Linked DNA regions of Homo sapiens: region 2 is linked to region 1. The links come from fine-mapping of genetic effects on gene expression. A gene starts in region 1. The other region holds a variant in brackets. All regions are shown on one strand. Distances are between the middles of the regions. Region 1 holds the start of BAZ1B (bromodomain adjacent to zinc finger domain 1B). Region 2 overlaps BAZ1B (bromodomain adjacent to zinc finger domain 1B).

Region 1 (8,329 bases):
AGGAGTATTTGATTTTCTTTGGAACTATGTTTTTATGTTTTTTAAAAATCCATCCATCTGCACACTGATATATGTTTCTTTTTGGAACTGTTTTCATTTTACCATGATAATACATAATTTGAATGCAACTGAAAACATTTTTTTAAGCAACAAGTCAGTATCATAGCAATTTTGGGCAGAAATAATAAAGGCCTGAAGCAGGTGCTGTGGAAAGACAGGAAGGGGAAACAGTTCAAGATTTTAGGCTGCTAGAATGGATGTTATCTAGTTGCCCCTGAGGCTGTGGAGCTCAAGAGAGAGGTCAGAGGCTGAGCCTGTGGGCTAAACAGGAAGGCGAAGCCATTAAGAGAAATAAAACCAGGGCCAGGTGCGGTGGCTCATGACTGTAATTACAGCACTTTGGGAGGCCAGAGTGAGAGGATCATTTGAGCCCAGGAGGCAGGAGTTTGAGAATAGCCCAGGCAATATATAGTGAGACGTGTCTTTATTAAAATATATATATATATATATATATATATTTTTTTTTTTTTAGATGGAGTCTCATTCTGTCACCCAGGCAGGAGTGCAGTGGCGCGATCTCGGCTCATTGCAACCTCCGCCTTCTGGGTTCAAGCGATTCTCCTGCCTCAGTCTCCCGAGTAGCTGGGACTACAGGCACACACCACCACACCCAGCTAAATTTTTATATTTTTAGTAGAGCCAGACAGGGTTTCACCATATTGGCCGGGCTGGTCTCCAACTCCTGACCTCGTGATTTGCCCGCCTCGGCCTCCCAAAGTGCTGGGATTACAGGCATGATCCACCCCTGCCCGGCCTAAAATAGTTTTTAAAATGTATTTTAAAAAAGAAAGAAAGAAAAAGAGCCAGGAGTGGTGGCTCACGCTTGTAATCCTGGCAGTTTGGGAGGCTTAGGTGGGTGGATCATTTGAGCTCAGGAATTTGAGACCATCCTGGGCAACATGGTGAGACCCTGTCTCTGCCAAAAACACAAAAAAAGAGCTGGGCATGGTGTTGTGTGCCTGTGGTCCCAGCTATTTGGGAGGCTGAGGTGGGAGGATCACTTGAGCCTGGGAGGTGGACGTTGCAGTGAGTTGAGATTGTGCAACTGCACTCCAGCCTGGGCAACAGAGTGAGACCCTATCTCAAAAACAAACTAATAATGTAGTCATTATAAAAACATAATCATAAAATATAGAAAAATATAAAGAAGAAAATCACATCAATTGTAATTCCAGTGAAAAAGGAGGGGTGAAAAAAAAGAAAAGAAAAAAAATTGTAATTCCAGGCCTGGTGCGGTGGCTTATGCCTGTAATCCCAGCACTTTGACAGGCTGAGGAGGGAGGAAACCTTGAGGCCAGGGGCTTGAGGCCAGCCTGGGCAACACAGTGAGACCCCATCCCCGTCACCGTCTCTACAAAAAAGAAAATACTTAGCAGGACATGGTGGTGTGTGCCTGTAGTCCCAGCTACTCTGGAGGCTGAGGATCTTGAGTCCAGGAGGTCGAGGTTGCAGTGAGCTGTGATCCCCCACTGCACTCACTCCAGCCTGGGCGACAGTGCAAGATCTTGTCTCAAAATGAGACAAAACGCAAAAACCATAAATCCATTTCCCCGAGATGAGCACTGTTCTTTATTTGGGGTCTCTTCATAAGCTCTATATGGTTCCTGAAGCTCAAGTTTCTGTACTGTGACCACCAAGCCCCACCTCCAGCTCCCACTTCCTCCCTCAGAATTTCCGGCTGTGTTCTGGATGGCTCTTCAGGGTACCTGGAGTTCACATGGCTGAAACCAAGCCCATTACCGATTTTCCCATCTCAGATCCCATCTTCACCAATCCCAGCAATGGATTCTAGCCCACAGCGGACCCAAGCGCTGAAATGATTATGGTGCCCAGTTCACATGTGCAAAGTGAGATGCTGTTCTGAAATATCAAATTGTTTTCTTTTGCTTTTTTTTTTTTTTTTTTGAGATGGAATTTCGCTTTATCGCCCAGACTGGGCACCATCTCAGCTCACTGCAACCTCTGCCTCCCGGGTTCAAGCAATTCTCCTGCCTCAGCCTCCCAAGTAGCTGGGATTACAGGTATGCGCCACCACGCCCGGCTGATTTTTGTATTTTTAGCAGAGACGGGGTTTTGCCATGTTGCCTAGACTTGTCTCAAACTCTTGGCCGCAAAGTATCCTCTCTCCTCAGCCTCCCAAAGTGCTGAGATTACAGGTGTGAGCCACCATGCCTAGCCCTGTAATTCCCTTCTAAGTAGTCACTCCGATTCAGCCATTACAGAATATATCAGGATGGTCACTTCCTTTACCATTCTCATCTGATATATTCTGCCTCAAATCCTCACATTTTGGGCACACGATCTTGAACTTCCAGGCTTCACTCTGCTGTTCTGTCTATAATGTTCGTCCCTCCTTCTCTGTCTAGAGAACTCTTTTCTTTTCTCAATTAACTCAAACGCTATGTGCTCTGGCAAGGCTTCTCCTGCTGTTCTTGGGAGAAAAGTCTACTGCCTCAAGGAAAAGGAACCGAGATCTTTTCTGCTAGGTGATCAGAGGAAACTTCACAGAGGTAGCTTTTGACCTAGACCTCCTAGTGGGGATAGGAGATCCTTGAGGTGAGAAGAAAAGGAGATAGAGGTCTGACATTAGGAGACTGCATTTAGAGACACCTCGCAGTCTAGCCCCGTTGAAGGACAGGCTGGGAAGGTACAGCTGGGAAGGTACAGGCTGGGAAACTTTAAAGTGAAGTTCTTTAAACTAAGGGAGACAGTTTAATAGGGAGATAACTTAATGAGTGTGTTTTTGATTGTACTGGAAAGCCAAACAAATTCTGGATGTGGGTGTTGTCTGCTTGGAGAAGCAACTGAAATGCTCCCCATTTAATAGCATTAAAATAGTTGATGCTATTTTCTTATTCTGCACTTTGTATAGAACTGTGATTATTATTATAATTTTTGAGACGGAGTTTTGCTCTTGTTGCCCAGGCTGGAGCGCAATAGCACAAACTCGGCTCACCGCAACCACCCCCTCTCGGATTCAAGCGATTCTCCTGCCTCAGCCTCTCGAATAGCTGGGATTACAGGCATGCGCCACCACGCCCGGCTAATTTTGTATTTTTAGTAGAGACAGGGTTTCTCCATGGTGCTCAGGCTGGTTTCGAACTCCCGAGCTCAGGTGAGGCGCCCGCCTCAGCCTCCCAAAATGCTGGGATTACAGGCGTGAGCCATCGTGCCCGACCAAACGTACCTATTTCCCCCCCCCCCCCGCCTCCCTGAGACGGAGTCTCGCTCTGTCGCCCAGGCTGGAGTGCAGTGGCACGATCTCCGCTCACTCCAAGCTCCACCTCCCGGGTTCACGCCATTCTGCCTCAGCTTCCCAGTAGCTGGGACTACAGGCACCCGCCACCACGCCTGGCTAATTTTTTGTATTTTTAGTAGAGACGGGGTTTCACCGTGTTAGCCAGGATGGTCTCCATCTCCTGACCCCGTGATCCGCCCGCCTCGGCCTCCCAAAGTGCTGGGATTACAGGGGTGAGCCACTGCGCCCGGCCCAGACGTACCTATTAAAGAGACATCCTGGCTGGGCACAGTGGGTCACGCCTAATCTCAGCACTTTGGGAGGCAGAGGCGGGACAATTGCTTGAGGCCAAGAGTTCGAGACCAGTCTGGGCAACAAAGTAAGACCCTGTCTCTACAAAAAAAATAAAAAATAAAAGGTAGATCCAATTCATTCAAATAGTATTCACTAGCACCTACAATGTTCCGAGCCAGGTGCTGAGTATCATGGGAGAAAAAAAAAAAAAGCCAGAGTCACAGCTCTGGCAGGGCGTGGTGGCTCACGCCTGTAATCCCAACACTTTGGGAGGCCGAGGCGGGTGGATCACCTGAGATCAGGAGTCCGAGACCAGCCTGACCAACATGGTGAAACCCCGTCTCTACAAAATACAAAAAATAGCCGGGTGTGGTGGCGCGCACCTGTAGTCCCAGCTACTCGGGAGGCCGAGGCAAGAGAATAGCTTGAACCCGGGAGGGAGAGGTTGCAGTGAGCCGAGACTGCACCACTGCACTCCAGCCTGGGCAACAAGAGTGAAACTCCGTCTCAAAAAAAAAAATAATGATAATTTTGGGAGGCCTAGGCGGTCGGATCACCTGAAGTCGGGAGTTTGAGACCAGCCTGACCAACATGGAGAAGCCCCGTCTCTACTAATAATACAAAATTGGCCGGGCGTGGTGGTGCACGCCAGTAATTCCAGCTACTTGGGAGGCTGAGGCAGGAGAATCTCTTGAACCCGGGAGGCGGAGGTTGCGGTGAGCCGATATCGCGCCATTGCCCTCCAGCCTGGGCGACAGAGCGAGACTCCGTCTCAAAAAAAACAAAAACCAAAAACCAAAAAACTAAGTACGTCTTTTAATCTATTTCTCCAAAGAAGCTTCTATATTCTACTTTCCAGCCAGCCCCTAGAAACAAGCAGTATACTTCTACCCAGATCTCAACCACACTCCCGCCCAGAAGTTAACTCTGGGGTGAGCAAAGCTGGCCCCCACGTTGTCCTTCCGCAGAACCTTTGGTAGGGTAAGCTCCCGGGGCCACTTCCCGCCAACCCCTCCCTGCAGCCCAGCCCCACCCGCGCATCCCCGGGCGTGGCCGAGCACGGCGCCTTTAAGAAGGGGGAGGCGCCCAAGAGGAAAGACAAAGCCCCTGGCCGCGCGCTCACCCTCCCCCTCCGGCGCACCACACGGACAGTGGTGCCCGGATGTCGGTGTCGCCGTCGGTGACAGATGGCGCAGTATCTGTATATGCGAGGGGCTTCTCCGGCTTGACCTCTTTGAGTTCTCGTCCTCTCCATCCCCCGCTGTCCCCCACTTTTAACTCTGCCGTCGGAGGCCCGCACGCCTATCACGGGCGCTTACATAACGTGACCTTTCACCTCTTCAGACTGCCCTCTAGTGCGCTGCAACCCAACTACGCGACAGGGGCAGGGGGGCGGGACCCAGGCGCGGAGCGGCAGCTCCTCCGAGCCAATAGGCTGTGAGCGCTGACCAGCTCTCCGCCTATTGGAGCATTCGCCACCGGCGCCACGGGGGAGCAAGTTAGTGTGTGCGTTGGCCGGGCCCGGGGGAGGAGGGGAATCTCCCGCCATTTTTCAATAATTTCCTCCGGTGCTGCTGAGGAGGAGTCGTGACTGCCGGCCGCCGGGACCCGAAGCGGAGGTCGGCGGGGGGCTGCTGGGAGGCGCGGCGGTGTGCGCGGGAGCTCTGCGCCGTGGCGTTCCGCTCCATGACTGTCGCGCGGCCGCGCCGGCGGTGAGGGAGCCGGAGTTCGCGCCGCCCTCTCACCCCTCCCTTCCCCCACCCCACCCCCGGGCGCCTGGCGCTCGCTCCGGGCCGCGGGGCCTAGTGCTGCGCCGCGGGGCCGGCCCCAGCAGCCGCCAGTCCCCACCGCCGCCGCCGCGATGGCGCCGCTCCTGGGCCGCAAGCCCTTCCCGCTGGTGAAGCCGTTGCCCGGAGAGGAGCCGCTCTTCACCATCCCGCACACTCAGGAGGCCTTCCGCACCCGGGAGTATCCTTTTCCAGCCGCGCGGGCCGGGCTGGGCCGGGCTGGGCCGGGGTAGGGCCTGGGGCTCGCGAGACCAGGTCAGCCGCGCATCCCCGGCCCGGGGCAGCTGTCAGCGCGCCCCGGCCGCTCGCGGGCCTGGAGGCTGAGTCTCAGCCTGCGCCCGCCGATCCTTCCAGGGGATCCGGCGGGGGGCGCGCACCGGCCCTGGAAGGAGAAGGGCCCGCTTCGGCCGCCCCCGGGGCCCCGCACTTTGTCCCGGGGCCTCGCCGGCGAGGAGCGCATCCCCCATCCCCATTACCTTCCCCGGGTTGGCTTTAGGCCTTGAGGACCCGAGAGGGAGGAGGAGGCGTGGGGAGGGGGAGCTAGGTTTTCTCCTTTAATTTTTACAAAAATTTTTTAAAAATTTAAATGAAACCTGCAGCTTAAGTTTTGAAATTGTACTCGCGCGGCCTCGTGATGCGGCGTGTGCAAGACTCAACTGCGTCTTACCCCGATCTCTGCGGGGATACTTGGCGTTTTTTTCGTCTCCCGAGGGGACTTTAGGCCGGGGATGAACTGACAGGACCCTGGGGCAGAAAACTAGGAATGAGATTCCCCGCTTAGAGGAAAGGGAGGGAAGGAAACTGCCTGTGGAGGAGCTGATGCCTGCCTTCCCTGGGCAGACACAGGTTTGAAATTTTGAAGGTTTAGAAGGAGATTGGTATTTGTTAAAATTAAACAAACAAAAAAACCAAGACGTGAAGTTTTTATGTTGTATTTTAGGAACATGAAATTGGATGTTTTACAAAGGAAGCATCCTCTCGTCATGACTAAGATTTCTTGCATAAGCATTATCTTTTAGTGAAAAGTTGTGCAGCTTTTATTTGCTTTTTTTTAATGGGTGCCAGAAGAATCGTTTTTGAGGCTTATCTGTAAAAAAAACAAAAACGATTTCGGAATCAAGCATTTCTTTGGTGACTGAAAGCTTTAAGAGTGAAGGCTAATGTGTTATGAGTTTTCTCAGCCCCTTCTGTTCGGAAGGACTTCATTTCTCAGTTTCTTGCTTGCTTCTGTATAGGAGGAAGTGTCTCTCAGAGTTATTTCATTTCTCCCTGATCCTCACTTTAACGCAGTACTTTAGAGGATAATCTCATTCTTGTTGGAGTGCAATTTGTGAGTGTCCCTTTGTGGGGAGTATACACACAAAGGGGCCTGGAAAATCAGTCCATGCTGGAGGAAGGCTCTTGGAGAAATAGAGCTGTAGCATCTTGGAGCTGAAGTGGATCTTGGAGGTGGTCGGGTCCTCGGGCTTGGTTTGCTGAGTTGGCCCAGAGAGTGGAGGTTGACTTGTTGAAGGTCAAATGATGAAAGAGGAGTAGAATCCACCGCTCTTCCTACCTCATCCCTGTAAGTCAATCAACAGAAGAAGGTGGAATGTTACTCCTTCACTTTCAATTAATTTAAATATTACCTCACTTTTTTGTCATTATGGTATAAGGTAAGGCACTTTAAAGTGGAGGGGTGGTGATCTGGTTTTTTTCTTGTCCTGTGAAGACTTGGAATGTTCTGGAGAAGTTCCACTAGCTCTACCAAATACTGCATTATACCGAAGTACCCCACTTTTTTTTTTTTTTTTTTTTGAGACGGAGTTTCCCTCTTGTTAACCCAGGTGGCAGTGCAGTGGCACGATCTGGGCTCACTGCCATCTCCGCCTCCAGGGTTCAAGTGATTCTCCTGCCTCAGCCTCCTGAGTAGCTAGGATTACAGGCGCGTGCCACCACGCCCGGCTAACTTTTTGTGTTTTTAGTAGAGATGGGGTTTTACCATGTTGGCCAGGCTGGTCTCAAACTCCTGACCTCAGGTGATCCGCCCATCTCGGCCTCCCAAAGTACTGGGATTAACAGGCGTGAGCCACCGCGCCTGGCCAGTACCCTACTTTTTAATACATTCGAATCGGCAGTGGAGTAGCAACTTGTGAGAATCCGACATATACTTTTCCAATGTCATTAATGTTTTGAGCCGTTGATGGATGCTCACACACTTTCAGATGATACTTTCTCAGGTCTGGTTCTAGCAGAGTATAAGAAACATGCCATAGAGAAGAGACAATTTCTAAGTATATTTCAGGTACTGAGCTATGTAAAAAATGGCTGTAGGAAGTTAATTTAGGACTGGCAACGCAGGCTTTTTCATATTATTGAATGAATGAAATTGAAATATATATATGAAGAGTTTTGATGGTAACAATTTAAAACTGAAACCGGAAACATTTTAAGTGGTATGTATTTAATAAACATTCTTCATTTTTTAATTTCCCATAACAGCATTTAAAACTGTTTTAACAAAAGAAGTCTTAAAACATATTATATATTGGGGGGAAATTGCTCTTTCGGGAATTTCTGCAAGTGGAAGCACTTTGAGGATGGTTTTTAAACAATTGTACTGTATGGTTGGCAGATTGGCATATTTCTTTATTAGGCTATTAGTGGTTTCATAGAGGAGAACAAATATGTGGTTAGGTAACAGCTGCCTTTGAAGTAGTATTCCCAGTTCTCAACTTATATTTACAATTATGTTTTTAATGGGACTTGATATTTTAATTTTCTTTTAATACCTACCTTTTGATTGCATGTATCACAGAACTTTGTGTGATATTTTACTGACTTAAAGCTGTATGTTGGTATGTTCTTGGAGTATATTGTGAATCTTCATTAAACTTAGTGGAAGTTGTGAGTAATGCACACATTTAATGACTAGGTGTTAAATATTGGTGATTATGTTGATTGTACTGTA
Region 2 (8,329 bases), 79 kb after region 1:
GCCTTGTAAAGAGGAGACACCTTGTACTTGCCAAGATAATACTGTTGTTTTCCACACTGAAATTTGGGGTTGTAAAATGTGCAGCTTATAGGTACTCTGGCTTGGGCTTCTTTTTTGAGACGGAGTTTCGCTCTTGTTGCCCAGGCTGGAGTACGATGGCGCGATCTCGGCTCACTGTAACTTCCACCTCCCAGGTTCAAGCGATTCTGCTGCCTCAGCCTCCCGAGTAGCTAGGACTACAAGCATGCGCCACCACACCCAGCTCATTTTGTATTTTTAGTAGAGATGGGGTTTCTCCATGTTGGTCAGGCTAGTCTCGAACTCCCGACCTTAGGTGATCCGCCTGCCTCAGCCTCCCAAAGTGCTGGGATTACAGGCGTGAGCCACGGTGCCCGGCCTGGGCTTCCTTCTAAGGGGCAGAGCTGTTTGATCCTGACCCCACCTTAACAGTATTAGCAGGTTCTTTTGCACTCCATCCCAGCTGCACTTAGAGATGAGACATGTTGCTCTGAAATGGTGGGGCTTTGGACCAGCTGTTCCGAGCTGGGATTACCACTGCTTTGATATTATGGTCATCTGCAAGCTGTTTCAGCTCCTGGAAGGGGGCCATCAAGGTGAAGTCACACCTGTCTGGGCTCTGTTTATTCTTTTCAGTCTACCTCAGAGGTGGGGACAGCTTTTAGTAACTGATGTATTACATTATCTGGCTCTTTTTGTGAGACAAAAGAAACAGTGTTTTGTATTGCTTTGTGTGGGGAAGGGTAGGATTGCATTTTGGTCTTAATTTCTGTTGCCTTTGGTATCTTGTCCAAACTGTCTGTGGCCTGGCAGAAGGAGGCATGAGGCATGCTGTTGAAACTTGGTTTTTCATTTTTATGAAAAACTCTCCTGGCTTACATTCAGGTTCCCTCCCTGAATTATCATACGTTATACATATGTAGTCTGTGAAGAGAAGTTTCCTGATCCCTGTGGGATTTGAGCCCTTCTTAGGACCACTTTGGGCTAAAACTGTGTTCCCTACATTATTTTTTCTACCCACAGGAACTATACTGAAGAGTCTGCTTCTGAGGACAGTGAAGATGATGAGAGTGATGAAGAGGAGGAGGAGGAAGAAGAGGAGGAGGAGGAAGAAGATTATGAGGTGGCTGGTTTGCGATGTAAGTATTTTGTCTGCCTTTGTAGTTGATTTCACAGTCTTCTAAGCTTGGAACGCTTGGAAAGGCTGGCTTGGCAGTAGGTAGTGTGGCCGGCTTGCCCTATTCCTTTTCTCTTGTGTTGTGACTGTGGCGTAACTTAGCTGCCATGGGTTTAAATGGGTTTCCAAGATGGCGTTTAACTTCCTGCCTGGTGGGAGAGAAGGTGGCTTGATCTCAGTAACATCAACCCACTTGCTCTAAGATTTAGTAGAATTCATGGTCCCAAGTATATTTATGCCAAGGCTGCTGATTCTCAGCTCCTCGGCATATGGGGACAATGGGGAAGGAAGATCTTGGCCCATTGCCATCTCCTGACAGTTCTTTTGGCTGTTGTTTTATCGCTGCTTTCAGAGAGTGACTTTTTCTGTCTGGTTACAGTGATTTTCTCCTCCCTGCAGTGTGCAGGGTTATAGCTTTGCTGGTTTGAAAAGAGACGACTGATTATTTGAAGGCTTAGGTGGAAGGATGTTAGGAAGATTCAGATCTGTTCTCACTAGATGCCAGTAGGAAAAAAGGCATCATCTTTTGTGTTCACCGCATTGACTCTCATTCTCTCATGTTCATTTCTCATGAGTGTTGGAGAGTCTGGTGTTTGTGGCTAATGTCCTCCAGTCTAGCCTTTCTTTTAGCAGCCTCCCTCTTTCCAAAATACACTTTTTTTTTTTTTTTTTTTTTTTTGAGATGGTCTCACTGTCGCCTGGGCTGGAGTGCAGTGGTATGACCTCAGATTACCTCAGTCTCTGCCTCAGCCTCCCGAGTATACAGACACCCACCACCACACCTGGCTGATTTTTGTATTTTTAGTAGAGATGGAGTTTCACCATGTTGGCCAGGCTGGTCTCGAACTCCTGAGCTCAAGTGATCTGCCTGCCTTGGCCTCCCAAAGTGCTGGGATTACAGGCATAAGCCACTATGCCCGGCCAATACACTTTTCTTTACAGGTTCGTAGAAAACAGACCACAGATCAAAATTCTAATGAGCTTTTGAAGCAGTGGTACAGTTCCCAAGATCATAGCAGCTCTGAATGGTCATACTTGGTATAAGGAGTGAGAGAGAGGATGCCTGGCATGACTAGTCTCTTACTGTAGTGAGACTGCCAAAACCTAATGATTTGGGCTTGCCCGTCTTCTCCTGTCCTCCCACTTTCCCCCCCATACTTCAGAGGTGTGATGTGGGACACCTTAAGCTCTCACATACGTATGGGCTCTTTTTGTTTGTTCACTACGCCTGATTTTTCAGGTATCCTAGGGTAAGTGAACAAATGGCCCATCAGTCCTGCATTCAGGAATATCCTCTTCTGTTGGTCAGAGTCAGTGACTTGGGCACACCTTTGTTTGGGAACATATTTTTTTTGGCGGAGCGGGGGATGGGTATCTTTCTCTGTTGCCCAGGCTAGAGTGCACTGGTATGATCACTGCTCACTGTATCCTCGATCTCTCAGGCTTAAGCAATCCTCCTTACCTCAGCCTCCTGAGCAGCTGGGACTACAGGCACGTGCCACCATGCCCGGCTTTTTTGTAGAGATAGGGTCTTGCCATGTTTCCCAGGCTGGTCTTGAACTCTTGGGTTCAAGTGATCCTCCTGCCTTGGCCTCCCGAAGTGCTGGGATTACAAGTGTGAGCCACTGCGCCTGATCTCTCTGAGGGCAGATCCTGAATATGGTAGTATACTGATTCTGTTTATTTGTAAGCTAGTGATTGCTTTCCACTTCTACGTTGTAGCTCTCTTTCCAAGGAATTGCTTTTCTAAGTTTTTACGGCCTCGACTTGCCAAAAGGATCTGGGAAGTATTTGGTACTTCAGAGCTTTTTGTCAACTCTATCTTTCAGACCACCAAAGATGTGGTTCCCCAGTGCAGCTCAAGGTTCTAGCACCTAAGCATCAGATTCTTACCCTTTCTTACTAGCCTGGGCTTGAGCTAGAGACGCTAAAGTAGCCAAGAAAGGGTTATCGTGATCCAGAAATAGAATGGAAAGTAGTGTTTCTGGATTATTCGTGTCACTGCCTTCCTAGACCTCTGTGTCCAGTGTCATCTCCCCACTCCCCAAGGGAAGGTGGTGGAGAGCCTGGAGCTAAATCCTCATGGCATTGTTTCCCAGGGCTCACTGAGGAATGCCAGTTGGCTTGATGGTGAGCACCTGTTGTAAACCTGAGACACAAGTAGTCTCAGTGCCTTTGTGTGTGTGTGTGTGTGTGTTTTTTTTCTTTTGTGAGATGGAGTTACACCCTTGTTTCCCAGGCTGGAGTGCAGTGGCGTGATCTCGGCTCACTGCAACCTCCGCCTCCCAGGTTCAAGCGATTTTCCTGCCTCAGCCTCCTGAGTAGCTGGGATTACCAGCATGTGCCACCACGCCCTGCTAATTTTGTATTTTTAGTAGAGACGGGGTTTCACCATGTTGGTCAGGCTGGTCTTGAACTCCCGACCTCAGGTGATCCACCTGCCTCAGCCTCCTAAAGTGGTGGGATTACATGTGTGAGCCACAACGCCCGGCCTATATTCTTTATTCTCTCATTGGGGATCCTGGGCAGGGCTCTTATGGAGGGGACTAGCCCTAAATTGTATTTAATGAGGAGCCTTGTGGCCCTTCATGGAAGTACCAGCTTTTCTCTGGAAAGATTCTGATGGTAAGTGTAGAATAACTCTGGGAATTACAACATAGGGTTTGTTTTACAATCCAGTTCCATCTTACATGTAAATACATCCACTCGCTCAGGCTGAGCTTGGGCTGTGGGAAATCCAGGCTGACCTATTAGCAAATGGCTTCTCATGAGTGAGAGTTTACAGTTGATTCCTGCAGGGGCCTTATGGCTGGGAGTAACTGCAGGACGGGGCAGGACAGAAGTACTGAAGGACCTAGCCCTCTGAAGGGCTTTGGCAGTGGATGAAAGGCACCCATTCTTCATCGGCTGCCACTGCCTTTTAGTGTCCTGTTAGGTAAGGCAAGATAAAATAGCAAGAGCACCTTAAAACCAAAGGAGGCCACTGCTTTCCTTGTCCAGGAAAAGGATTCTCCCTGCATCCCTTTCCCCCATTTCGAAGATGCTCCTCCCTTCACCTTCCGTTGTTCTCTG[C/A]TGAATCCATAGTTTTTCTTTCAGTGAGACCTCGAAAGACCATCCGGGGCAAGCACAGCGTCATCCCCCCTGCAGCAAGGTCAGGCCGGCGCCCGGGTAAGAAGCCACACTCTACCAGGAGGTCTCAGCCCAAGGCACCACCTGTGGATGATGCTGAGGTGGATGAGCTGGTGAGAATTATTTATCATCCCTTCTCTAACCTTTCTGTTTCTTATTCCCTACCCCAGCAATTAGGAATTCATCAGGCAACAGGTGGGAGGGGAGCCTCCCCCCTCCTCCTTCTTACCAAACTTGGGAGGCTGGGGAGGCAGATGGGTGAGCCTGTACGCAGACAGAAGCAGCAAGGCCTCCAGGAACAGCTATGTCCGGCATTCCCCTGCTGTAGCCTGCAAACTAGTTAGCGGGCAGCCTGCAACTTATTAAGGATTTAAAAATAGTATCCATGTGTCTCCAGTGGGCTCAGAGGGGCTGGGTCTTCATTGTGGGAATGTCAGCAATGCTGGAGCCTCACTTACTGTTGAGTCGACAGTTGTTATGGGAGGGACATTACCCTCCCCTCTGCTCCTTAACCAATGTAATTTTAGTAGTTTTTAGATCTCACTTGAGCTTTAAAGAACAAAAAAGAAACTCTTGAAAAGGTGCTTGTTTTGACAGATCAAATTGGAGTTAGGGGCTTAAGGCAGGCCATTTGGGAGATCATAAGGCATTAGAAGATGCTCGGTTTGCCACAGCCTTGGGCTCTGTGGCCTCTGCTGTGAATCACAGCTTTTGTTATGGCTACCTGGAATGGAGGCCCCGCCCCTTTTCTCTTTAGCCACTTAACCCTCACATGTCTACGGTGGAAGAGCCCAGGAAGGGAATTGGACCTCTTGCTTTTCTTACCAGAGGCACCCCACCCCCACAGAATTGGCTGCTGTTGGCCCAGATAGCATGTTTTGCTTTCTGCAGTGGCTTGTTGATGCCCTTCCATGGTGTCACTGTAACCCCAGGTCCACCTGTTCTCTGAGAGCTAGTGTCCTGTTGACAGTAGCCCCCTTCAGCCGACCTCCAGCAGGACTGCTGGTAAAGGCGGCCCCCGCTGCCTGCTCTTTGCTGCTTTGATTGCCGTGGCCCCGGGGGAGGCGAGTGAGTGGACTACTGGGAAGATGCCTGCCACCTGGGCCGAGGGTGCTCCCTGACTTGAATATCAGAAGGTTTCAGCACCTCTGCGCCAAGGAAATAGTTGAACTCTCTTCCTTTTTTGAGCAGATACACTTATTTTCTGCCCTGTCCATTCTTCCTCCTGTCTTGAATCTGTAATAACATTGTTCTTTCTTTCCTGCCAGGTGCTTCAGACCAAGCGGAGCTCCCGGAGGCAAAGCCTGGAGCTGCAGAAGTGTGAAGAGATCCTCCACAAGATCGTGAAGTACCGCTTCAGCTGGCCCTTCAGGTGAGTGCTGTGTTCTCAGGTGCAGGGGAGAGGAGTGGCCTGGCTGGTTCTAAAAGCTTCCAGAGCCCCTGAGGGGCTCTCAGCCAAGCCCTTGCTTTTCAGGACGTGTCTCAGTGGCAGGGGCACTGCCGTCAAGGCTGTGCAGATTCTCCATTTGGTTCTTCTCCACAGGGAGCCTGTGACCAGAGATGAGGCCGAGGACTACTATGATGTGATCACGCACCCCATGGACTTTCAGACAGTGCAGAACAAATGTTCCTGTGGGAGCTACCGCTCTGTGCAGGAGTTTCTTACTGACATGAAGCAAGTGTTTACCAATGCTGAGGTTTACAACTGCCGTGGCAGCCATGTGCTAAGCTGCATGGTGAAGACAGAACAGTGTCTAGTGGCTCTGTTGCATAAACACCTTCCTGGCCACCCATATGTCCGCAGGAAGCGCAAGAAGTTTCCTGATAGGCTTGCTGAAGATGAAGGGGACAGTGAGCCAGAGGCCGTTGGACAGTCCAGGGGACGAAGACAGAAGAAGTAGAGAGGCAGGGCCGTGGTAAGGGAGCTGAGGTGGGGGGACAGCTAGGGAGGGTGGGAGGGAGGCGAGCGAGGAAGACCAAGAACCTGGAAGAGATCACAGGGAGTCCAGAAACGCCTGTCATCCCAAGCTTATGCTGTTTTTCTAAAAGCTCTTTATGGGGCTTGATATTGGGTTGGTGGTCTTTGTCCAGAAATATGAAGGGACAAAGAGGGCCATAACCCTCCCTTCTGAGAGTTTCCAGGAGGAGTCCGAGGGTCTAGCTTTTCTGGTGAAGCCAGTTCCTGTTCCTGCCTTCTTTCCTAAGGGCCTGCTCGCTCTGGCTTCCACCACAGTGCCAAGCCCCTCTGGTCTCCAGGGGAGGGATTGCTGTGTTACATAGCAGGATCGGGGTAATCAGGCCAACAGGGGAGATGGTGGCGATTTTTCTTTTTTAATCTGTATTTATTATACAGTCTTGTTTCTTTAAGCCCATACTCTGTCTCTTCCCCCGTCTTCCTCTCAGGTGACAGTATCAGTGAGTGCCATACAGAATTGTGTATTCACCAGCATCATGAAACAGTTGTGGTCTTTTGAGTTGATCTTGGCAGAGTAAAGGGACGTGTCCTGGAGCCATTCCTGAATCTCCCCTTCTTTGTGACAGCTCCTCCCACCCCCCCAAAAAATAAAAAAACCACAAAAAACAAAAAAACAAAACTAAGGCACTTCACTTAGAGACTGGAGTCCTGCTTATAATCATGCATATAACCTTTACTTTGATGGATCTGGCCAGAGGGGTGTTGGAGCCCAGCCCACCCACATACCAGTCAAGCTCTTAGGGGAGCAGAAGAAAAGCAGGAAGAATTTAAATGTTTAATTTTTTTTTTAAATTGACTTTTCTAGTTATTAAAAGTTGCTTGTTTCAGCAGTGATATTGTATAAAGAACATCTTGTAAGATACTCCTGACATCTTGCTTTAGCACATGTACAGTACAGTTTCTATGATAATGTGTTTGCTCTAACTTCCCTGGCTTCTCCTTCAGCCCATCCACTCTCCTCTAGAGCAGTTGGGTTGGAGGCTCATTGAGGCAAGCAGCAACATTGGAGGGGGAGCAGGGCAGTGCTGTGTCTGCTGCCTCCCATGCCCGTTCTGACCTCAGCCTTGGAACTCCTCAAGAACCTGAAGATTCCAGTGGTCAGTGTCGGTGGGGGGTGGGAGGAGAGAGCGGCAGAGAAGCTCTGAGAGCCCCTTCCCCCACAACAAATCTAGCTCTAGTTGTTATATTTAGGCAAAACTTTGTAGTCTTCTTTCCCTTTTATGATGGATTTTGATAAAAGTACAAAACAGGGTTTTTCTTTTTTATCACCTTTGAATTTGGAAATTTTGAGCACCCAAGCTCTTCTGTACCTATTTAAAGTCCACCAAGGGGACTGCAGCTCCTAGAACATGAGAATCAAGCCTCTTAATTTTAAACTGCGGAATGTGGCCTCTGCTTCCTCCGTCCTCCTGCCCAAGGACGACGAGGATTGCTCCAGGGCTGCTGGGTAGTTTACCGTCCCTTCTATAGGCATGGAGTTGGCACTGACATCACAGCTTCATAACCCCACCACCGCCAGCTTCCCCTGCCTCCTACATCCAGTCTGTTCTTGTTCATAGTGAGAATCCTGTGTTCCCACTTCAGTGACACCTGAATTGTTTGTTGTTGTTTTTTTTTTTTATTGTCTTCAAAGAGGAAGGGCCCCATTAAAGGGTGAACTTGTAATAAATTGGAATTTCAAATAAACCTCATGTACTTGTGTTTATAAAGAAGAAACCACTCTGGTGGCTGTTTGTGCTCTTTCTTGGTGGGTGGGGGTGGGTAGTGCTGTCCCGAGTGCTGCTTTCCCACTGACCCTTGGAGCCGGGTCCTCTGAAGGCTTGGCCTCCAGAGTCAGGGCCTCTCAGTGTTCTTAACCACAGAAAGAAGTACTCCCTCCAAGCCTCTCCTGGCCCTGTCTCCGTCTAAAACCCTGAAAAACTTCATTTGAAACTAGGAATTACGGTGAAAATAGGTTTTTAAGCCTTCACTATGGGGAAATTCTGCCATTTTAAAACCTTTCTCAGGGAAAAAAAATTTTGGGGAGGGGG

Evidence for each region.
Region 2: its variant is fine-mapped to the expression of BAZ1B in whole blood (TOPMed, PIP above 0.99).

Annotation. Positions count from the first base shown.
Region 1 is chr7:73,519,058-73,527,386 of GRCh38, reverse strand. BAZ1B (bromodomain adjacent to zinc finger domain 1B) reads left to right here and starts at 5,094. Exons shown (of 20, transcript NM_032408.4): 1 at 5,094-5,560. The coding sequence starts at 5,454. RefSeq lists enhancers at 1,598-1,667, 4,751-4,910 and silencers at 4,481-4,620, 4,971-5,850.
Region 2 is chr7:73,440,092-73,448,420 of GRCh38, reverse strand. BAZ1B (bromodomain adjacent to zinc finger domain 1B) reads left to right here. Exons shown (of 20, transcript NM_032408.4): 16 at 1,042-1,157; 17 at 4,292-4,437; 18 at 5,593-5,696; 19 at 5,868-6,240; 20 at 6,728-8,015. The coding sequence ends at 6,225. Among named protein-coding and RNA genes, the nearest start is that of FZD9, 10 kb to the right of the region's middle. RefSeq lists an enhancer at 4,831-5,801. The variant C/A (reference allele first, on the strand shown) is at 4,268.